4 separate regions of the Homo sapiens genome follow, and regions 2, 3 and 4 are each linked to region 1. Evidence: fine-mapped expression QTL. A gene starts in region 1. Each other region holds a variant in brackets. All regions are shown on one strand. Distances are from middle to middle. Region 1 holds the start of ABL2 (ABL proto-oncogene 2, non-receptor tyrosine kinase). Region 2 overlaps FAM20B (FAM20B glycosaminoglycan xylosylkinase). Region 3 has its middle 22 kb from the start of ABL2. Region 4 overlaps ABL2 (ABL proto-oncogene 2, non-receptor tyrosine kinase).

What was found. PIP is the estimated chance that this variant, and not a neighbour inherited with it, causes the effect. A credible set is the group of variants that fine-mapping cannot tell apart.
Region 2: its variant is the best candidate, but not a certain one, in a credible set for the expression of ABL2 in skeletal muscle (GTEx, PIP 0.60).
Region 3: its variant is the best candidate, but not a certain one, in a credible set for the expression of ABL2 in caudate (GTEx, PIP 0.64).
Region 4: its variant is the best candidate, but not a certain one, in a credible set for the expression of ABL2 in whole blood (INTERVAL, PIP 0.80).

The regions. Positions count from the first base shown.
Region 1 is chr1:179,226,912-179,232,866 of GRCh38, forward strand. It overlaps ABL2 (ABL proto-oncogene 2, non-receptor tyrosine kinase), which reads right to left and starts at 2,766. Exons shown (of 12, transcript NM_007314.4): 1 at 2,330-2,766. The coding sequence starts at 2,486. RefSeq lists an enhancer at 2,060-2,816 and a silencer at 2,272-2,681.
Region 2 is chr1:179,049,218-179,055,172 of GRCh38, forward strand. FAM20B (FAM20B glycosaminoglycan xylosylkinase) reads left to right here. Exons shown (of 8, transcript NM_014864.4): 3 at 1,062-1,148; 4 at 5,312-5,421. Among named protein-coding and RNA genes, the nearest start is that of FAM20B, 26 kb to the left of the region's middle. The variant T/C (reference allele first, on the strand shown) is at 3,394.
Region 3 is chr1:179,249,064-179,255,018 of GRCh38, forward strand. No RefSeq gene overlaps it. Among named protein-coding and RNA genes, the nearest start is that of ABL2, 22 kb to the left of the region's middle. RefSeq lists a silencer at 1,433-1,605. The variant C/T (reference allele first, on the strand shown) is at 2,680.
Region 4 is chr1:179,158,344-179,164,298 of GRCh38, forward strand. The region is part of intron 1 of ABL2 (ABL proto-oncogene 2, non-receptor tyrosine kinase); the gene reads right to left. Among named protein-coding and RNA genes, the nearest start is that of ABL2, 68 kb to the right of the region's middle. The variant T/C (reference allele first, on the strand shown) is at 2,881.

The DNA.
Region 1 (5,955 bases):
CAAAGGGCAGGGACTCTGTTATGTTCACAGCAACATTCCCACAATCCAGTACATAACAGGTGCTCAAAAAAAACCCTTGTTTGTTGAATGAATGAAAGGACCCTTGAAATTACTCCTCCCATTTCCACTGCCACCACTCAAGGCCAGTCTTTCAGGTAAAGACTAGCCAATCAGGTAAATGGATATAAACTTCTCTGCCAGATTTTCCATAACCCAGTCCCATCCAGCCTATCAAAATTTTCTTTCTACTGCTTCTTAATTAGAATCATAAAATCTTAAAACCAGAAAGTATCTTAGAGATCATCCAGTCCAACCTCCTCACTTTACAGATAAAGAAACCCAAAGATGGTGACTAAAATCACCCAGGCAGGTGGAGCCAGAACCAGAACTTGACTCTTCCAATTTTTGCTCTATGATCTTTTTCTTCCAACTCATAATGATGCTTCATTCCTGACAGCTGTCTCCTCACTAGCCCATCAACAAATTATATCTATTCCCATGTTCCCGTTCAAGTTGTTTCTTCTACCCAAATTGTTCTCCCTCTCCATAGATCCAAATCCTCAAAATGTCTTCCTATTCCATTCTTCATGACTTCCTCTTTCTTGGAAAATCTTACATACCGAATAAGATAGTAAAGCAAGAGGATCACCATTGCCTACTAGGCCAAGTTTAATGCATAGTAACACTTCCCACAAAGTGAAGCTTACTTGGATGATTTCTTCCCTGTAAACTACTAATCCATTCTTCCATCCTGTGTTTTAGGAAGTGATTTTAATAAAGATTAGCTCATATATCACCTTCATAAAGTGTTCATATACCCGAAAGAGACACTCAAGCACATCTTCAATAGGAGACATGTGGCCAGGCGCAGTGCCTCACGCCTGTAATCCCAGCACTTTGGGAGGCTGTGGCGGGTGGATCATGAGGTCAGGCGTTCGAGACCAGCCTGGCCAACATAGAGAAACCCCACCCTACTAAAAACACAAAAAATTAGCCGGGTGTGGTGGCGGGCGCCTGTAATCCCAGCTACTCCGAGGCTGAGGCAGGAGAATCGCTTGAACCTGGGAGGCAGAGGTTGCAGTGAGCCAAGATCACGCCACTGCACTCCAGCCTGGGCGACAGAATGAGACTCCGTCTCCAAAAAAAAAAAAAAAAAAAAAAGAGTTTGGGCCAGGAACGGTGGTGGCTCACACCCGTAATCCCAGCACTTTGAGAGGCCAAGGCAGGCAGATTACCTGATGTCAGGAGTATATGACAAAATCCCACCACCACCAAAAATACAAAAATTAGCCGGGCGTGGTGGTGCACACCTGCAGTTCCAGCTACTCGGGAGGCTGAGGCAGGAGAATCACTTGAACCCGGGAGGCAGAGATTGCAGTGAGCCGACATCCCGCCATTGCACTCCATCATGGGGACCAAAGCGAGACTCTGTCTCAAAAAAAACAAAAACAAAAACAAAACAAAAAAACAAGACAAAAAAAGTTTGGAGACAACTATTCTAAAAATACATTGACAATGAGATCAAAATAATAGGTTTCAGACTACAGGGAGCATACATACATGTATGTATGTATATGGGCACACGCACACACTACAAAGGAAAACTTGTTCATATCCTGACTGACGTCCTAACCATGCCCACCAACCTCTAGCCCTTGCCAGCAATCTCAGAATTGTGTGTCCTACTCTGAAGCATAGTACAGAGGCTTTGGCAAAGCCTTTCATTTCTAGTAAAAACGAAATACAAAACAAAATAAACCACAAAAGCATGTCAAAAGTGATAAGATGATGCTAACTTCATCTTCCCTACAGAAAAGCATTTGACACTGTCCACAGTTCACTATCCTGACACTGCTCATCACCTAACGTAAACACATACCTTGTACTCCACAATCTCCTGAAATTCAGTTCCCATTTCCCAATCCCTTAGGATACAACCCATTTCCCCTTCACTAACGACGGGTTTATGCTCCCACCTCTGGGACTGAGCTAATACTGCCCTTCATCCTTCCCTCTCCTGAAGCTGCCATTCACTTTCTTTCTGCAGCCGCATAGTCCCGTCCCAGAGTAGAGGACAGACCATCCAGGGTCCCCAAACCCACTTCTCTTTCCTTCTCCGCCCCCGGGATCTGCCAGCCAGGCTAGAGACGCGAGGGGGGAGGGGTGTGACTCGCCTCCCAGGACTGGACCAGATGGCAGCGGATTCCGCCCCCACTCTCAGGCACCTTCCACCCTCCGACCCCTCGGGCAGCCCGTCCGCCACCCACCCCGCCCCGACCCCACCCCCGGCCTCCCCCACGCTCTCATGCCGGCTCCCAGACACACTCACCATGCTGGGTGAAGATATTGAAGCCGGTCTCTGTGGTGCGCCCCGCCGGGTCCCGCCTGCGGCCGGAGGGCCTGGCTGCACTGCTGCCCCGGATCCCGCGGGGCTGAGGCTGCTGGAGCCCCGGAGCTTCCCCGACGCGGCCCACCTGCTGCCCCATCCCTGCTCTCGCGTACTCCCGCGCCCCCGCCGACCCCTGGTCACATTCCTCCTCGGCTCCGGCCTCGGGCTCCTGGCGCTGCTCCGGTCTCTCCCTCCCAGCCCAGGCCCTGGCCCTGAGTGGCTGGGCCACCGGCGGCTCCGCACCCGGCCTCCTCACGGCAGCCGCCGCGCTGCCTCCAGGCGACTCACAGATTCTGCTTTTCCCTCCTCCTGTCGCGGCTCCGCGCCCCCAACGCCGCCGCCGCCGCCGCCGCCACCGCCGCCGCCATCTTTAAACCACCGAGCGCTGGGAAAGCGTGGGACAGAGCGTCTCCCGCCCCCCGCCCCCCGCCCCCCGCCCGCCAGTCACCTCCGCCGCGGGGAAGGAGGGCTTCCCGGCTGCCGCCCCGCCCTGCCGCGCCGCGCCCCCCGTCCCCGCCCCCGCCTCCTCGCAGGGTGGGTCCCCCAGTGCCCACCTCATTTGCCGGCCACCGCTGCTTGAGGTCTTTCGTCCTCCGCGTCCTGTCGCCGCACCTCGGCGTCCCCCCCCTCAATCCGCCTCAGCCGACCCCCTCCCGCGTTCGGCTCCACACGCTACCGCCTTTGGGGTTGGTCGGTCTCCGGCCTTCCCCATCCCACCTCCACCTGTCAAATGAGTGAGTCGAGGGCTCAGTGCCACCGCGTGCGCAGCTCAGGTGCAGGCACAGGTGGGGCAGAAAAGCACAAGGCATTTATTTGGTCCTTGCCATCCAGTTAAGGAGCTCTAAAATACCCAGGGGGATCTCTTTTAAACACCCTTGTCAGCAGCAGGCCTCCAGTAAAAATTAAAATGGTATAAAATTTACAAGAAGAGAGTAAAATGCTACCTTATTTGATTTTAATTTTTGGAGATTATTTCATGATGTTAAATCGCACTGGCCTGGATTGTGTGCCTTCTATAGTCTCATTGGGGACGCAATTGTAGCCCCATTCCTCATATTATATTACCATGAATTCCTCTTGAACTCCTTTACCATCTCACCATATGTGAGTTTCTGTTTCCTTACAATGCCTGACAGTAAAGTTAATCTTCCCACTGGCATCCTTTATACACTGTGCACGTGGTCAGGTCTTCTTTTGATGACAAAGGAGAAAAAATATATATCTTTGACCCTGTTTCTGAGTCAGAACTTACTCATTTTAGCTTATGCAGTCTAAAGAGAGTGAATGAGGCAGAAAAGAAGCGTTTTATACATACACATATACTATATACAATTGACTCGCCATCCCCCTCTCCCACTGTGTTTACTTGCATCTTAATTCAATTTTTTTTAATTCTCAAATCTTGATCATTCTCCTGTTATTCTTTTGGCTTCCCAATTTGCTTTATAAAAAGTATCAGTTAATGGAGGTACTACACTGAAATTTTGCTTAAATTAGACAGGACGGGAGCCACTGCAAAGAAGGAACAAAACAACCACTGGAAATGTAGGGTTGGGAGAAGAGGTGGATGAAGCTCTCCTTTGCATATCTTTCCTGAACCAGGTTGACCTTAGATGAACCATCCACTGACGTAGATATTGCCTGTTGTAAAAGCACTATGAAATTATTCCATTGCCATCTAGGGTGTAGCCAGAAATAACTGAAATTAACTCCAAAATGGGAACGGAAACACTATGTGTAAACACTGGATAAAATATGAACTTTCCATTTGGATTAAAGTTTCCCTGTGTTTAAAATACCTGTCTTTTCTTCTAATTCCCAGTGTTTGCAACTACTGAAAAAAATTCATTCGAAAGGGATAAAGATGTCACAGAGCCGGAATTTGGTTTACTGTTTGATTTTTATTATGGGAGAAAATTTTAATTTGGGGATAATGGTTTGGTTTCTCTGCTAATTCATGCATACTATATAAAGATAGATGAATATATGGGTTGAACATCTCAAATCTGAAAATCCAAAATGCTGCAAAATTCGAAATTTTTTGAGCACCAATATGATGCCAGAGGTGGAACATTTCACGTAAGTACTTAACATAAACTTTGTTTCATGCACAAAATTTTTAAAATATTGTATTAAATTGCATTCAAGCTATGTGTATAAAGGTGTATATGAAACATAAATGAATTTTGTGTTTAGACTTGGGTCGCATGCCCAAGATATCTCATTATGTGTGTGTAAATATTCCCAAATCTGAAACACTTGTGGTCCGAACATTTCTGATAAGGGCTGCTCAGCCTGCAGTAGAGTGCAGTGGCTAAGGGCAGGGGCTCTGAAGCCAGACTGCTTGGGTTCATAACTTGGCCCTGATACTTATGGACTATTTGATCTGGGCAAAGTACATAACCTTTTTGTGTCTCAGTACATTATCTGTAAACTGATGATGATAACAAATAGTATCTACCTTATAGGAATATTGTGAAAATTAAATTAGTCAATATATATGTATAGTACTTAAAACAGTATTTGGCATATAACTGGTGTCATATATGCATATACTATTAATACAAAAAACATAATGGTTTTAGGTTTTACAAGCCTAACTTTTTCAAATTTTATATATATATATATATATAAATTTGAGCAATGGCCAGAGGCCAGCATAAAAGATCAGACACATCACCAACAGCAGTAAGGCGTGCTGAAGACACAGATACTCTTCATCCTCATCATCCTTATCACAGGAGCAACACCACTCTCTCCAGAAGGAAGGAGCTTGTGAGTAATGCCTCACCAATCCCTGACTTCACCAGTCTGCATTTCTAGGCTATTGCCATACTTTTTACAGTTTTACAGTATCTCTCATATCTACCTCTTCCCTTCATCTATATAAACAGCGTTATGTAAGACACAGTGTTAGCTTAGGCATCTCTGCGCTGGTTTCTCCCGCTACTAGCCCTTTCTTCCTAGAGATTCCTCACCTTTAGCACCAAGCAACTCACTCAAAGAAACTGCTTCTCTCATTGCTTTGACCACACTCTCCCTCTCATTCATTACGTACAAAGTCTTAAGTCTAAAATTTTCACCTAATGGGCCGGGCACAGTGGCTCATGTTTGTAATCCCAGCACTTTGGGAGGCCAAGGTGGGCGGATCACTTGAGGTCAGGAGTTTAAGACCAGTCAGGCCAATATGGTGAAACCCCGTCTCTACTAAAAATGCAAAAACTAGCCAATCGTGGGGGCGCGTGCCTGTAATCCCAGCTACTGGGGAACCTGAGGCAGGCGAATTGCTTGAGCCCAGGAGGCGGAAGTTGCAGTGACAGGAGATTGCGCCACTGCACCCCAGCCTAGGTGACAGAGGGAGTCTCTGTCTCAAAAATAAATAAATAAATAAATAAATAAACAAAATAAACGTTTCACCTAGTGTTTCGAAGTTATTTTCCAGGATAACTGGATTATAATTGCCTAATGTTCTTCCATCTCCTGTTCCTCCAACCTCCACCTTTCCTATGGCAGGCATACATACTTTATCCAATTAGCCTATTTCTGAGATGTATCCCTTTTAGCTA
Region 2 (5,955 bases), 180 kb before region 1:
TGAGATGAAAGAGACCTTAGAAATTACCTCCTAGTCCAGCCCCTAATATTGTAAGTAAGGAATCTGAGACCCAGAGAAGAGAAAGGTTTTGCTCAAGCTTACCCAGTCAAGTAATGACAGCCACACCAACCTCCCACTGCCAGTCCAGGACTCCTTGTAGTACGTCATCATAAACTTAAAAAAAAAGAACAAGAATGGTTATTCAAACAACTTTTTTCAAAAGCGCTGTTGCCTTCCCATTAACAAAGATTGAGTTATATCAGACTATTTTCCCCCAAATTTAAATTTCTCTTATAAGCTTTGCCACAGCCATTCTGGTAAGCAAAAGTTTTTTGTTTTTTGAGACAGAGCCTCACTCTGTTGCCCAGGCTGGAGTGCAGTGGCACAGTCTCGGCTCACTGCAACCTCCGCCTCCCAGGTTCAAGCGATTCTCCTGACTCAGCCTCCTGAGCAGCTGGGATTACAGGCATTCACCACCACACCCAGGTAATTTTGGTGTTTTTTAGTAGAGATGGGGTTTCGCCATGTTGGCCAGGCTGTTCTCGAACTACCGACCTCAGGTGATCCACCCATCTTGGCCTGCCAAAGTGCTGGGATTACAGGTGTGAGCCACCGTGCCTGGCCAGCAAAAGTTTTAATTACACATTTTTCTTCATTTCTTCAGGTCAGTCTAATAAACATTTTAGTAGACATTTATTAAGCACCAACTATGTGCTTAACACTGTGCTGGCAATACAAAGACAGTCCTTGCCTTCCAGAAAACTACCTTTTATCTGTACTAAAACTACATCAAAAGCCCTTTAGTGGGGCAAAAATGACAGCTTCCATGTTTTATTCTTAGAATGATTGGTGACGTAGATAGAGAATTCTAGTTTCCTTCTCTACCTCATCTTCATTCCATCTACCGGCAATTCATGCTAATCCACAGTTGTTTGCAGGGTTGACAGAGAAGGTGACTATAGCAGAATCAGGCTTGCTAATGGGTGTATTCTACCACTTGTGCTGTCACCTGTTACTGGTGTAATCCACGTATACATCTGTGCTTCCCATTCACTTTGCAGGTATAGCCGAGACCATGTGGTGGAAGGGGAACCGTATGCTGGTTATGATAGACACAATGCAGAGGTAGCAGCCTTTCACTTGGACAGGTGCGTATGATCACAGCAGCTTATGTTCATTTTGTTTGCTTTCAAAAATCTTTCTTGGAGAGGACTCGTGGACTCCTTCAGAAGGATGCAACACTAATAAATAACTTGTTATCGATTTTAGATAGCTAATTGACTAGTTCCATTAAACTTGTATGAGTCTCATAATTTGGTTGGCACCAGGAATACTGAAGTATTTTACTTCCATGCTTCTTTAGGTCATTTCATTTCTGGCCTGCTCTGTTATTATCATCAGTGAAGATATTCTTGGTAAATAAACTTTGAACTTAAATCTCTGAATTGAACTGGTCGTTAATTGGGTCTAGCCATCCTGTTGTTTTGTTATGTATTTGTTTTAAGTAAGTAATGCTGACTTATTTCCATGTGCTGGAAACATATAGCATGAAATATGAGTTTTATTATTCTTTATACAAACTATGCACAGCTTCAAAAACCAGAATAATTACAAAAGGAAAGGGCCAGGCGTAGTGGCTCATGCCTGTAATCCCAACACTTTGGGAGGCCAAGGTGGGCAGATTGCATGAGCTCAGGAGTTCGAGACCAGCCTGGGCAACATGGTGAAACCCCGTCTCTACTAAAATACAAAAAATTAGCTGGGCGTGGTGACAGGCACCTGTAGTCCCAGCTTCTTGGGAGGCTGAGGCAGGAGAATCGCTTGAACCCAGGAGGCACAGCTTGCAGTGAGCCGAGATCGTGCCACTGCACTCCAGCCTGGGCGACAGAGCGAGACTCTGTCTTTAAAAAAAAAAAAAAAGGAAAGAAAATAGATGTGAATTATAAGTTTGTAAGTTAACTAGGAAAATTCTTTTTTTTTCTTTTTCAGCAGGTTACTAGTCAGGAACCTTGCAGCTGAACTGTCTGGTATCCCAGTTACTCTGCTGACCAGCTCTTTCATAAGGCCATATTGGCTGACTTTAAAAGAAACTGCTAACAATATTTGTTTTAAAAAATTAATTTATGACTGGATGCAGTGGCTCATACCTGTAATCCCAACACTTTAGGAGGCTGAGGTGGGCAGATCACTTGAGCCCAGGAGTTCAAGACCAGCCTGGACAACATGGAGAAGCCCCGTCTCTACTAAAAAAATACAAAAATTAGCTGAGTGTGGTGGCGTGTGCCTATAGTTCCAACTAGTGGGGAGGCTGAGGAGGGAGGATTGCTTGAGCCTGGGAGGTCGAGGCTGCAGTGAGCTGTGATCACACCACTGCACTCCAGCCTGAGCAACAGAGTGGGACCCTGTCTCAATAAAATAAAATAAAATAATAAATAAATTTTTTTTCTGAGACAGAGTCTCACTCTGTCCTCCAGACTGGAGTGCAGTAGCCTGATCTTGGCTTACTGCAACCTCGACGTCCTGGGTTCAAACAGTTATCCTGCCTCAGCCTACCGAGTAGCTGGGACTACAGGTACGCACCACCACACCCAGCTAATTTTTTGTATTTTTAGTAAACACGGGGTTTCACCATGTTGGCCAGGCTGGTCTGGAACTCCTGACTCGAGGTGATCCGCCCACCTCAGCCTCCCAAAGTGCTGGGATTACAGACGTGAGTCACCACGCCCAGCCTAAAAATGAATTTATAAGGAAACCAGAAAAAAAAAGGTGAAATGTTTGTCTTTTTCTGAATTAGGATTTTGTAAACATAAAAGCAATAACTTAAAAATCACAAATTCAATAGTCTTGACTAAATAAAATAATGAACTTATATAGCAAGAGACAAAATTTAAAAGCAAACAACAAACGGAGAAAACACTTGAATCTAATGTAATCTGAGTATTAATAGCCTTAATATGTGTTTATACAAATATTAATGGTCTTAATATGTGTTTATACAAACATATGTATGTTAAAACTCTATTAGAAAATGGGTTAAGAGTATAAACATTGTCAATTGCTAATAAATATGTGGGGTGGGGGGAGGTTCATCCTCACCAGAAATTTTTAAAAATTCAGATGAGATACTGTTTTTACCTGTTGAAAATGGCAAAGCTTAAAAAAAAGATAATACTTTATTGGGAGGAATACATTGAGATTCATATGCTGCTTATGGCATTGTTAATTGTTTCAGTCTTTTTGTTAAGAACCCTAGCATTATATATCAAAATTAAGGATAAATATATCAACATTAAGGAATGTTCATATCCTTTGAACAAATAACTGCTTTTTTATACACATATCTAAGACATTTCTAGGAACTACCCTAGAGAAAGAATACAAAATTCAAAGATA[T/C]ATATACAACAGTCTTAGCTGTAGCATTTTCAATAGTGGGAAAACTGGTTGTAACCTAAACATCTATTGATATGGAAAAGCTTAGATATGTGTGTACAATACCATGAATTTTTGCTGCCCCTTTTAAGACCTAGTGGTGGACAGTTGGATAAATCCTTCTCCTCACTTAATGGCACACTAGAATCAGGCTTTCCAAGACCTTATCTGTTTGCCTCTTTTCTTCGTCCCCAACTCCCTTCTTCCTATCCTGTTTGTTGGAAACCAACAGGCATAAAGTTCCTCATTTCTGTACCAGTGTTTTGTATTGCCCAACACACTAAGTTTTGTTGATATATATGTAAAGTGATATTTCATTGTTATTTCATTGTTATTTTGTATTTCCCCATTACTGGCAAAGTTTATCTTTTCACAGCAGGACACCTATTTGTTATCTTAGAGTATTTGTGTACTTTTGATGTTAACTAACTATAATGTTTCAGTTTGTGACTTGGGCTTTGGGAGTCTTGTATTTAAAAGTCCTTCCCTACCTCAAAGTCTGAAAGATGTTCTCTTGCCAGTCGCCCTGTCACTTTTGTTAAGTGCCACCGTAGCCAGCCTCAAGTGCCACAGTAACATTGCCCCTCAATGCTAAACTGGCTGCTGTTCTTGGGCTTGGCAATTTTCAATGGGAAGAAAAAATACTTCCCAATCTAGGCTGCGTTTGTAGTCCTAGGTACCAGGGAGGCTGAGGTGAGAGGATCACTTGAGCCCAGGAGTTCCAGGCTGCAGGGAGCTATGATCATGCCGCTGCACTCTGGCCTGATCAACAGAGTGAGACTCAAAAACCAACCACCCAAACAAACAAACAAACAAACAAACAAAACACACACAAAAAACCCTTCCCAACCTTTTCCATTTGTGGATCTTGATACTTTTCTGCTTTGGGTTGCTGTTTCTTCATTACAGTCAGATTTAACCACCTTCCCTTGCCTCTGGGGGTATCTCTGGATTTCTATGTTATTTTGACAAATCTGTTGATCTTGCCTTTGTGGCTTTTCTAAGACTGTGTTTAGGACAGAATCAGCAGCCCTAAACAATAGCCATTTGTAAAGGCTTTCTAATGACTGGGGAAAAGGTTCATGATACAATGATGAGTACAAAGCAAGATATAAAACTGCATACAATATAATCTCGATTGTATGTATATACGTAAGTGTGAGTGTGTGTTTATATACCCACACTTAAAGGGAAAGCATGCTTATATGCCAGAATGTCAGCACCTGTAATTATTTCTGGGTTGTGGAATCATAGGTGATTTTTATTTTCTTCATTGTAAATTTTCTGTGTGTTCCAAATTCTGCCCCTCCAACTTTTGTTCAGTTGGTGTATATTTTTTAGCCAGGAAATTTCATTTTTTTAAAATAAATCATTGTTTTCAACCTTTTAGATTATTAGAGATATCTTCAAATGTCTCTATATTTAATTTGCTCTGTGGGCTTAGCCTTTTAGATCAGTCTGCTTTTTTTTTTTTAACCAACATGCTGTTTTATTTAAAGATTTGAACCCATATATGAGTTTGGGTCCCATTTTTTTTCTAATACTTTCCTAAAATCTATTTTTAATTTTTATTATGAAAAAATTTCTATCATACAAAAGTAGAAAGAATAGTATAATGAGCCCATATACCCACTCTGTAGATTTAAAAAGTGTTCACATTTTATCAGATTTGTCTTATTCTTTTTGCTGAAATGTATATTAAAATAAATTATACACACCTTCACATTAAATTCCTAAATATATGTACCTCTAAAAAATTAGGTTTAGCTACTAGCTAAAAACCCTTTACACATTTGACATGATGAACTGTAATTTTTAAGACTGTTACTTAAAAAACATCCCCTAAGATTTTTCTCTTCTGTTCTTCAATCTTCCAAACCAGGATTCTGGGTTTCCACCGAGCCCCCTTGGTAGTTGGCAGATTTGTTAATCTTCGGACAGAGATCAAACCTGTCGCCACAGAGCAGCTGTTGAGCACCTTCCTAACTGTAGGTAAGAAGATTGTAGAGGACATTTATATAGGGGAATGATTAATAAGTTAAAATGGGGCATTGTTGAGCAAGCTGGCTCATGACTTTTAGGAATTGAAGAACTCAGTGGAATACAAAAGCAAATCAGACAACCAGCTCTCAGGTTATTTGGGAAAATGAATCTAAAGGAGATGGCAGGAAATTGAAATTTTCCTGTATACTTTGTGTTGTCTGTGACATAGGGAGTGAGGTCATTTAGTGATGGTGAAAGCAGGTGATTATTTCCTTCTGCTTTCTCTTAGAGCTATTAGTAAGTCTCAAACTCAGAATTTGGCCTAAATTGGTTATTGTTTGTATATCATTGGCTCAGTTGTTTTTACATATATAATATGTTTCCTCAGGAACTGTCTCCCATCTCCTTAGAATTGAGGAAATCTTAAGGCAACTCTTTAGGAGGCTCAGAAATTATTTTGTAAGGTTGTATTTGGACCTGGAAGATCAACAGGCCTACTCCTTCTGCAAGGGTTAACCTATAACTCATTGTGCCTGGAACTGG
Region 3 (5,955 bases), 22 kb after region 1:
CATTGGTCACCCTAGCATTGGCCATTCATTCACTAAGTATTAAGCTCTTACTGTGTGCCAGCTGCTGTATCAGGGACTAAGGTAACAGCTGTAAAAAAGGCAGACAAAATTCCCTTCTCCTCAAGGAAACTGTAGTGTGGTTGGAGAATCCAGTAAAGAAAATTGACAATTAGAATATACTGTGCAATGAGTGCTAAAGAAGGGGAAATGACCTAAGAGCACAGAAGCAGGGCCAGGAAGGCTTCCCCCAACGTGGGAATCTGGAGGAAGGGGAAACAGAGGAAGGAAGCATTCTCCCCGCCCTAAGGAAGACCAGAGGGAGCATGGCACAGTGGGGAGCTGTGAAGTTTTCTATCACTTTTTTTTTCTAGCATTAGCAAATATTTGTGAGTGTTTGCTGTATGCTGAGTGATACAAGGAGCACAGAATAACTATGTGAGTGATTACAATACAGTGAGATTGGAAGACATAAGAACTCCAATTTCAGCTGGGCGCGGTGGCTCATGCCTGTAATCCCAGCAATTCGGGAGGCCGAGGCAGGCGGATCACAAGATCAGGAGTTTGAGACCAGCCTGGTCAACGTGGTGAAACCCTGCCTGTACTAAAAATACAAAAATTATTCAGGCATGGTGGCAGGTGCCTATAATCCCAGCTACTCGGGAGGCTGAGGCAGGAGGATTGCTTGAACCAGGTAGGCAGAGGTTGCAGTGAACTGAGATCACGCCACTGCACTCTAGCTTGGGCCACAGAGCAAGACTCCATCTTTTTTTTTTTTTTTTTTTTTTGAGACAAAGTTTCACTCTTGTTGCCCAGGCTGGAGTGCAATGGCGTGATCTCAGCTCACCGCAACTTCCGCCTCCTGGGTTCAAGCAATTCTCCTGCCTCAGCCTCCCGAGTAGCTGGGATTACAGGCATGTGCCACCACCCCTGGCTAATTTTGTATTTTTAGTAGAGATGGGGTTTCTCCATGTTGATCAGGCTGGTCGTGAACTCCCGGCCTCAGGTGATCCGCCCACCTCAGCCTCCCAAAGTGCTGGGATTACAGGCGCGAGCCACCGCGCCCGGCCTAGACTCCATCTTTAAAAATAAAAAAATATTGGGAGGCTGAGGCGGGCGAATTACCTGAGGTTGGGAGTTCCAGACCAGCCTGACCAACATGGAGAAACCCTGTCCCTACTAAAAATACAAAATTAACCGGGCATAGTGGTGCACACCTGTAATCCCAGCTACTCGGGAGGCTGAGGCAGGAGAATCACTTGAACCCAGGAGGCAGAGGTTTCAGTCAGCCGAGATCATGCCATTGCACTCCAGCCTGGGCAACAAGAGCAAAACTCCATCTCAAAAATAAATAAATAAATAAAATTAATCAGTCAATCAATCAATTGGGTGTGGTGGCATGCATCTGTAATCCCAGCTACTCAGGAGGCTGAGGCAAGAGAATCGCTTGAACCTGGGAGGTGGAGGTTGCAGTGAGCTGAGATCGTGCCACCGCACTCCAGCCTAGGTGACACAGTGAGACTCCATCACAAAAAAAAAAAAAAAAAAAAGTCCAATTTCAACACAGGAACAAAACACAGCATAAGAGATGTCACAACGGTGGAGATACAAATTCAGGTAATATTTTAAGTGACTTTGCTCATTGCTTTTATGTTCTGATTTTTTTTTTTAGATGGAGTCTCACTCACTCGCCCAAGCTGGAGTGCAGTGGCATGATATCGGCTCACTGCAACCTCCGCCTCTGGGGTTCAAGCCATTCTCCTGCCTCAGCCTCCCACATAGCTGGGATTACAGGTGCCCACCACCATGCTCGGCTAATTTTTGTATTTTTAGTAGAGACAGGGTTTCACCATGTTGGCCAGGCTGGTCTTGAATTCCTGACCTCAGGTGACCCACGGGCCTCGGCCTCCCAAAGTGCTGGGATTATAGGCATGAGCCATCATTCCCAGCCTGTTCTAACTTTTTTCATTTGGAAAAAACGTAAAGTTGTAGAAAAGTGTAATGAATACTCACATTTCTCCCCACTTAGATTTACCAACTGATGACCTCTTGCCACACCTGCTTTGTCTCTCTACATATGTATACACACATCTCCTTTTTGTTAAAACATTTGAAAGTAGGTTGCAGATGTCTTCCTACATTATTCTTAAATATCCCAGCTTGAATCTCCCAAGAACAGGAATACTGTCCTGCAGAAGCACAGGGTCCTAACACACTTAAGAAAATCAATATTAACTCAGTCACATCAACCAACATGCTCAAATTTCTTCACCTGTCCCAAATCCTTTTTTTTTTTTTTTTGAGATGGAGTTTTGCTCTTGTTGACCAGGCTGAAGTGCAGTGGCTCCATCTCAGCTCACTGCAACGTCCACCTCCTGGATTCAAGCCATTCATCTGCTTCAGCCTCCCACATAGCCAGGATTACAGGCGCCTACCACCATGCCCAGCTAATTATTGTATTTTTAGTAGAGAGGGGGGTTTCACCATGTTGGCTGGGCTGGTCTCGAACTCCTGATCTCAAGTGATCCACCTGCCTCCGCCTCCCAAAGTATTGGGATTACAGGCATAAGCCAGTGCGCCCAGCCCCCAAATTGTCTTTATGGCTCTTCTCCCAACTCATCACATTTAAAAGTTCTTCTGTACCCTTAATGTACTTCTACTGTGCCTGGAAAATAAATGTAA[C/T]GTCATTAGGTCTGTTTCTTCCCTTAAGATAAGCTATACTTTAATATTTATTCTAGTTAGACTTACTGGGTATGTGATTTATGATTTATGATTGGATCTGTGAAGAAAACAATTTGGAAAGCATTCCTGGAAAGGCTACACATCACAGTTAGCCTCTAGATGTCCTCCTTGGATAGAAGAAACCTGCAGCTAGTAGCTTAACAAGGACTTTTCCAGAGCAGTCACTATTGAGCAGATGCATTGTTCCCCAGTCAACATAGATGAAAGAGTTTAATAAATGCTTCAGAATTCCAAACTGAATATAAATAAGCTCAATTTATATGGTTCTCCAAACATTTGGCACACCTGAACAAGGTTGTAAGCTGGAAGAGCATGAGGATAAAAAATGAGGTTGACTGTCCTGTAATCCCAGCATTTTGGGAGGCCGAGGTGGGCAGATCACTTGAGAACTGGAGCTCGAGATCAGCCTGGCCAATGTGGTGAAACCATGTCTCTACTAAAAATATAAAAATTAACTGGGCGTGGTGGCGCATGCCTGTAACCCCAGCTACTTGGGAGGCTGAGGCACTAGAATCACTTGAACCCAGGAGGCAGAGGTTGCAGTAAGCCGAGATTGCACAAACTGCACTCCAGCCTGGGTGACAAAGTGAGCCTCCATCTCGGAAAAAACAAAACAAAACAAAACAGCAACAACAACAACACAGAAAGAAATGGCCAGCCATGGTGGCTCACACCTGTAATCCCAACACTTTGGGAGGCCAAGGCGGGCAGATCACCTGAGGTCAGGAGTTCGAGACCAGCCTGGCCAACATGGTGAAACCCCATCTGTACTAAAAATACAAAAATTAGCCGGGCACAGTGGCGGGAGCCTGTAATCCCAGCTACTCGGAGGCTGAGGCAGGAAAATCACTGGAGCCCAGGAAGCAGAGGTTGCAGTGAGCCGAGATAGATCGTGCCACTGCACTCTAGCCTGGGCGACAGAGTGAAACTGTGTCTCAAAAACAAAACAAAACAAAACAAAAAAACAGAAGTTGATAGGACAAAAAGAGACCAGGGTAAGTATTCACAGACTTGTTTCTGCCACTTTCAGCTCTTTTAAAGGGATATCTATATGACTCAATATTGTGCCTTTGTTATACTCATTAGTTAAATGGGCAGAGAAACAGAATGGAATGAGCCTAAATGAGAAGCCATACAGAAGATGTCTGACAGAAATTATTCCAAAAGTGAGAAGAAGAGACCCAGAAAGGATAGGAGTTTCCAAAGAGACAAAGAAGAGCAATTTAGGAGAGTAGTTTCTATGATGAGTGGGACTTTGGGGGGAGATTTATAGGGGATTATAGAATATGTTGTTGTGTTAGATGGTGCAGTTCTACTTTATCTTTCCTCATATTTATTCCAGTTATAATAATAATAATAATTTACTGAATAGTAATTACTGTGTCAGACACTATGCTAAGCACTTTGCATACATTATCTCATGTAATCCTAATAACAAACCTGTGACCTCTCATTATCCCCATTTTACAGTCAAGAAAACTTAGTCTAGAGAAGTTAAGCAGGTCATCCAAGGTCACCCAATTAGTAAATAGCAGAGCTAGCGGAGCAAGGATGTGGGTCTTGGCTGACTCCAGAGCTTGTGTTCTTACGTGTTTTGCTATATAACACGATCATTTGTCACTGACATGTGGGATCTGGAAGCATATGCGAAAGTGTAAAGAGGCCATGCAGCCTACTTCAGCCTACTTCCAGCTGAGGCTGGAGTTGCTACTATGACTTCTATGTCATCAAGCCCTTAACATTCCAGGGTTTTAGATAGTCCTTGCATATTTTCAGAAAGTAACCATTCCTATCACCATTTCTTCACTCACATAAGAAAAATGGTATACTCCTCTGTCTCTCTGTCTTTTCAAAGGCTGGCATTTTTCTTTCCCACTGTTATTCTTCGGGAAAAGAGCCATCCGTGAGAAAGTGGCTAACATGACCTCTGTATGATTCAGAGAAATGTGTCCACCACAACCGAGATAAACTCCTTGTCCAGTGTGGTAAGCATAAACTGACACTTCCTCATCAAAGATGCCCACCTTCTAATCTCTAGAACCTGAGAATATGTTATCTTACATGGTCAAATGGATTTTGTAGATGTGACTAAATTAAGGATCTTGAGATGGGGCGATAATCCTGCATTAGCCAATGGGCCCAAAGTAATCACATGAATCTTTTTTTTTTTTTGAAACAGTGTCTCATTCTGTCACCCAGACTGGAGGGCGGTGGTGCAATCTCAGCTCACTGCAACCTCTGCCTCCCAGGTTCAAGCACTTCTCCTGTCTCACCCTCCCGAGTAGCTGGGACTACAGGCGCACGCCACCACTCCTGGCTAATTTTTTTTGTATTTTAGTAGAGATGGGGTTTCACCATGTTGCCCAGGCTGGTCTCGAACTCCTGAGCTCAGTCTGCCCGCCTTGGCCTCCCAAAGTGCTAGGATTACAGGCATGATTCACCGTGCCCGGCAATCACATGAATCTTATAAGGGGAGGGACAGGATATTGAGAATAAGAAGAGGAGGTATGACGATGGAAACAGAGGCCTGGAATAAAGCAGGGTTACAAGCCAAGGAATGCAGGCCGCCTACAGAAGATGGAAAAGGCAAGAAAACAGGCTCTCCCCTAGAGCCTCCAGAATTCATTGCAGCAGCAATAGGAAATGAAATGAAAACACTTTGTATAGGGATACATGAAGCCATGCTTGCTACTCTATGTCCATGAACACATTTAGAGGTAGACTGACTCCAGAAACTCAGTCATAGCACAGACTGATTGGTGGTAGAGTTCCTCAGTAGGCCAACTCCTCTACACATAAAGGAAAAAAGAGTTCCCCAGATCTCTAATAATGGCTAAAATTCAGACTATTCAGCTGGGCATGGTGGCTCACACCTATAATCCCAGCACTTTGGGAGGCCGAGGTGGGCGGATTGCCTGAGGTCAGGAGTTTGAGACCAGCCTGGCCAACATGGTGAAACCCCATCTCTACTAAAAATACAAAAATTAGCCAGGCGTGGCAGTGCACATCTGTAATCTCAGCTACTCGGGAGGCTGAGGCAGCCTACTTGAGCCTGCCCCAGCCGAGATCACACTATTGCACTCCAGCCTTGGTGACAGAGTGAGACTCCATCTCAAAAAATAAATAAATTAATTAAAAAATCAGACTATTCCTATCCTGTGCCATGTACTGTCCTAAGAGTTTATGTCTACATTTAATCTTCACAATGTTACTGAC
Region 4 (5,955 bases), 69 kb before region 1:
ATATATTATAATGAACCCTCATGTTAACTCTGCTAAAAATATTATATTATCCCATTTCACAGATGAACAGACCATGTGGTAAGATGTAGAGATACAATTCTGGAATAGGATTTGGAATTCTGCCTCCTGGTTCAGAGATCAATTTTCTTGGACTATCACAACCAGAAAGTTTAAGGGACCCCCACAACCACCTGATTGTCTTTCTGCACTTACGTAGTGAAACTGGCCTCTGACCTAAGGCTAGAAACCAGTGACTAACGTAAGTCCTTTTCCATGATGAGGGAGTGGATGGTGAAGAATGAATTTAAGAAAACATAAAGCCAGACATGGGTAGCGCACACACACAAAAAGAACATTCCTTATGAATATAGATGCAAAAGTCCTCAATAAATTATTTAATACTAGCAAACCAAATCTAGCAGGATAATAAGATTATTTTACTATACCAACTATGATTTGTCCCTAGAGTGCAAGGTTAGTTCAACATATGGAAATCAATATATAATACAGCATATTAACAGAAAAGAGTCATGCCTTGTAGAACTTTCTAGTTGTACTTAATGAGAATATAATATCATCTCCCATTTATTGAGTACCTAACACATGTGAAGTGTGAGGCAATATGAAATTAATTTAATTATAATAATAGCTGCATGGCAGCTGTTATATTATGAGTATAAATCAGCAGTAGAGCATGGTGGTCAAGAGCATAGATGCCAGAGCCAGATTCCCTGGGTCTGAATACTAATTCTACCACTTACTACATCTGTGATCAAGTTAACAGCATTTCTTCAGTTTCCTCATCTAAAAGTGAACAGTATAACTTGGATGTAACCTAAATTCAACTTAATGTGAATAAAATACATGCTGTAAGTACAGATAACCTCTTTAATCTGTAATCCTTAGAACCTGTAGTCTAAGGTCAATCAGTTTTCCAATTCATAAAGAGGGTCTACACCACTGCTCCACAAGCAAGGTAACACATAGTAAAATAGTCACAGAACACATGAAGATTATCACAGCTTGCTGGTGAAGGAATAAGTAGTCCTACTCAACATATTGGCTCAAATATACTGACATCATTCCATAAACTATCGGCAACAGCTGTTTATGATGGGATTTCTGGTTCAGCTGATTTGTTGATTTTCTGACCATGAATTTAAGAGATACATCTGTTTAAGAAAGAGCTAGAAAATATGGTAGCCTGTCACTTCAAAATGTGTCGTTTTTGGTTGTTTTTGCAACTGTCATTACCTTGAAGACTTCCTAAAATTTTGATTAATAGCCATGGGCTGCTACACTGATTTATACTTGACCAATATAGACTAATACAGAATTTTATTAATCTCTCAAATACGGGTTTAAATGATGTAATGAAGTACAGGCTTTTCTGAAACTGCTTATATTAATACAAAATAATGTCTTATAAAAATACTTGTATAATGCTTATATATATAACTTGTATATATAACCTATATAAAACATAAAGGCTGGGTGTGGTGCCTCATGCCTGTAATCCCAGCACTTTGGGAGGCCAAGGTGGGCGTATCAACTGAGGTCAGGAGTTCAAGACTGGCCTGGCCAACGTGGTGAAACCCTGTCTCTATTAAAAATGCAAAAATTAGCTGGGTATGACGGCATGCACCTGTAGTCCCAGCTACAGGGAAGGCTGAGGCAGGAGAATTGCTTGAACCCGGAAGGTGGAAGTTGCAGTGAGCCAAGATGGCGCCACTGCACGCCAGCCTGGGTGACAGAGTGAGACTCCACCTCAAGAACCAAAACAAAAACATACATAACTTGTATTTTATATAACTTGTATACCATACTTATATAACTTCTATAATATTCATATAACTATTAATACTCATAAATATTAAGTATCTACTTCAGCCGGGGGTGGTGGCTTACATCTGCAATCCCAATTATTCACGAGGCTGAGGCAGGAGGATCACCTGAGGCCAGGAGTTCAAGACCAGCCTGGGCAACATAGTGAGACCCCATCTCTAAAAATAAAATAAATTTTAAAATAAAAAATAAAACATTTTGTAAAAGTATATACTTCTACATCATTCCTATATATCAAAATACCACTTAAGCTGAAATTCCAAACTTTTGGAACAAATATAAATATATAATTATTAGATTAGTATGTATACAATTAGTACATATCTACATTATCTAATTCTCGTAATAATCCTATCAGGTAAATAACTTGTCCAAGATTACACAGATTTGCTCCAATTTCCTTCATCTTCCTTATATATTTTATGATAAAAATTCATGCTTTGAAATACTGAGATATGAGTCTTTTAAAAATATCTTAGTTATATTCTTAATAATAAGACAAACATTATGTACCATATATGACAATTCATAATTTTCCAAATGTAATCATTTAAGCCAGGGTTTTTCAACCATGACACTATTGACATTTGGAGCCAAATAATTCTGTGTGGCGAGGCAGTGGGGGACATGAAAAGATGTTCAACAGCCATTAAGAAAATACAAATTAAAACCACAATGAGATACCACTACAAGCACAAGCCACCACACCTGGCTAGTTTTTTCATTTTTTGTAGAGACAGGGTCTCTGTTGCAAAGGCTGGTCTCAAACACCTGGCCTCAAGCAATCCTCCCACCTCGGCCTCCCAAAGTGCTGGGATTATAGGTGTGAGCCACCATGCCCAGCCTGCATTTCTAATATCATTCAGAGGTGATACCAATGCTAGTAGTCTAGGGACCAAACTGCCTAGAACTTCCTATACAAATAGGGATAAAGGGTCATTAACAGAGAACATTTTTTCTTTAAAAAAAGCAAAAGACTTGATAAGCTACATACCCCTCTCAAGGTATGAATTACAGTATTTTTATAATGCTAAT[T/C]TTCAAGATTTAAGCCTGGCACAATAGTGCCCATCTGTAATTCCAGCTTCTTGGGAGGCTCAGGTAGGAGGATCACTTGAACTCAGGAGTTCAAGACTAGCCTGGACAACACAGGGATACCCTACCTCAAAAGAAAAAAAAAAAAAAGGAAAAACAGATTTAAAAACTAAATGATACCATGCATGAATATGTTTGATAAATAATGAGTACTTGGCCAGGTGTGGCGGCTCACACCTGTAATTCTGGCACTTTGGGAGACCAAGGTGGTAAAATCTCTGGAGTTTATGATCAGCCTGGGCAACATAGTGAGACCTCATCTCTACAAAAAATGAATAAAATCAGCTAGGCGTGGTGGCGCGTGCCTGTAGTCCAAACTACTCTAGAGGCTGAGACAGGAGGATTGCTTCAGGCTGAGAGATCAAGGCTGCAGTCAGCTGAGACTGTGCTAATGTACTCCAGCCTGGATGACACAGCGAGACCCTCTCTCAATAAAGAAATAACGAGTACTTATCAGGTGCCATACTGAGGTAACATGCTGCTGTGGTTTGAATGTGTCCCCCAAAGTTTGTATGTTAGAAACTTGATCCTCAATGCAACAGTGCTGGGAGATGGGGCCTAATGGGAGGTGTTTAGGACATGACGGCTCTACCCTCATAAATGGATTAATGTCAATATAAAATAGCTTGAGGCTGAGAGTTCAACCCCTCGTGCTCTCTTTCTCACTCTCTTTGCCCTTCCACCAGGTGATGTCTTCTGCCATGATGCAGCAAGACAGATGCCGGCCCGTTGATCTTGGACCTCCCAGCCTCCAGAACTCTGAGAAATGAATTTCTGTTCATTATAATTACCCAGTCTCAAGTATTCTGTTATAGCAACGCAAAATGGACTAACACACATGCTGAATGAGTCAATATTTCCCAAAGTGTGTTTCATAAAAGTAGGCTAAATAGATGTCACAAGTCAAGTGTTCCATAGTCAAATAAGATTGGAAAATGCTGAATATAACAAGTCCAACAATAAAGAAATGGCTAACTTATAAAAGCCATTAATATATTCACGTTCCTAGAAACCATCCAAAAGATAGCTAGAGGTGGCTCACACCTGTAATCCTAGCACTTCGGGAGGCCAAGGCAGGCAGATCACCTGAAGTCAGGAACTCAAGACCAGCTGGGCCAATATGGCGAAACCCCTTCTCTACTAAAAATACAAAAATTAGCCGGGCATGGTGGTACACGTCTGTAACCGCAGCTACCTGGGAGACTGAGGCAGGAGAATTGCTTGAACCCAGGAGGCAAAGGTTGCAGTGAGCCGAGATCAAGCCACTGCATTCCAGCCTGGGCAACAGAGCGAGACTCTGTTTTTAAAAAAAATTAAAAAATAAATTTAAAAAACCCCAAAAAATAGCTAGAGCATGTAATGTATCTCAGATTTCTTTTCTCACAGATATTCTTTTCACTAAGCATCTCAGAAGACTAGTATTATAGGGAATGGACTCTTGAGATAAGAACTGAGAGGAAAAAGAAAGGTTTAAATACAGCTATGTATCAAGCACTTCATATACATCATTTAAAATTATCTAATTCTCACAATAATCCTATCAAGTAATTAACTTGTCTGAGATCACAAGGTGAATTATAGCAGAACCCACATTTAAAACCTAGCCAACAGTATGTCTCTGAAGTCCTGCAACATTGTCTTTTTAATAAGAAAAAAATATCAAAGAGAGTCCTATGGGGTGTGGTGGAAAGGAAAGAAAATAAGAAAAGCAATGGGAACAAGAAACATTACTGTTGGTACAAAGCCCAAGCAAAAATGAGTTGAGGCTCTAACAACCCATTTAAAAACCAAAAGAGAACTTGAACAGACATTTCACCAAAAAGGTTATACAAATAGCAAATAAGCACATGAAAAGATGTTCAACAGCCATTAAGAAAATACAAATTAAAACCACAATGAGACACCACTATATGCCTATTGGAATGGCTAAGACAGAAAATACTGACATCAAGTGCTGACAAGCAAGCAGACCAACTGGAACTCTTACATGTTGCTGAGGGGAACACAAAATGGTGTAGCCACTCTGGAAAGCAGTTGGGCAGTTTGTTATAAAGTCAAACACTTACCATAGGACCTGGCAATCCCATTCTTGAGTATTTACACTGGAAAAATGGAAACTTAAGTTCACACAAAAACCTGAACACAAATGTTTATGGCAGCTCTATTGAAAATTGTCCCAAACTGGGCCAGGCGCAGTGGCTAACACCTGTAACCCCAGCACTTTGGGAGGATGAGGCGGGTGGATCACTTGCGGTCAGGAGTTCGAGAACAGCCTGGCTAACATGGTGAAACCCTGTCTCTACTAAAAATACAAAAATTAGCTGGGCATTGTGGCAGGTACCTGTAATCCCAGTGACTTGAGAGGCTGAGGCAGGAGAATCGCTTGAACCCAGGAGGCGGAGGTTGCAGTGAGCTGTGATCGCGCCACCGCACTCCAGTCTGGATGACAGAGTGAGACTCCGTCTCAAAAAAACAAAAAAAGAAAAGAAAATTGTCCCAAACTGAAAGCAACTTAAATGTCCTTCAGTGAATGAAGGGATAAACAAGGTGTGGTACACATCCATACTATGGAATACCACTCAACAATACAAAGGAATGAAGTATTGATAGACACAAGTTGGATGAATCTCAAAGGCATTTTGCTGAGTCTCCCACAGAAGCCAATCTCAAAAGATCTCATACTATATGATTCTAGCTCTATGACACTGCTGAAAGACAAAACTCTAGTGGTGGAGAACACATCAGTGGCTGCCAGGGATTAAAGGGGGGGAATATGTGACTACAGAGGGATTGCATGAGACAGTCTTTTGGGGTGATGAAACTGTTCCGCTGTTTGTGGGGTTATGCGAATTTACATGTGTTAAAATTCACAGAACCGTACAATAAACCAACAAAATCCATTTTACTGTGTGACGATTTTTTAAATTAAGAGAAAAAAAGCAGAAAATGTGTTGAAGCACATTTTCATGCCAGTTATATGTAAATAATAAAAAGTCATGCCATGAATGTCATATCATA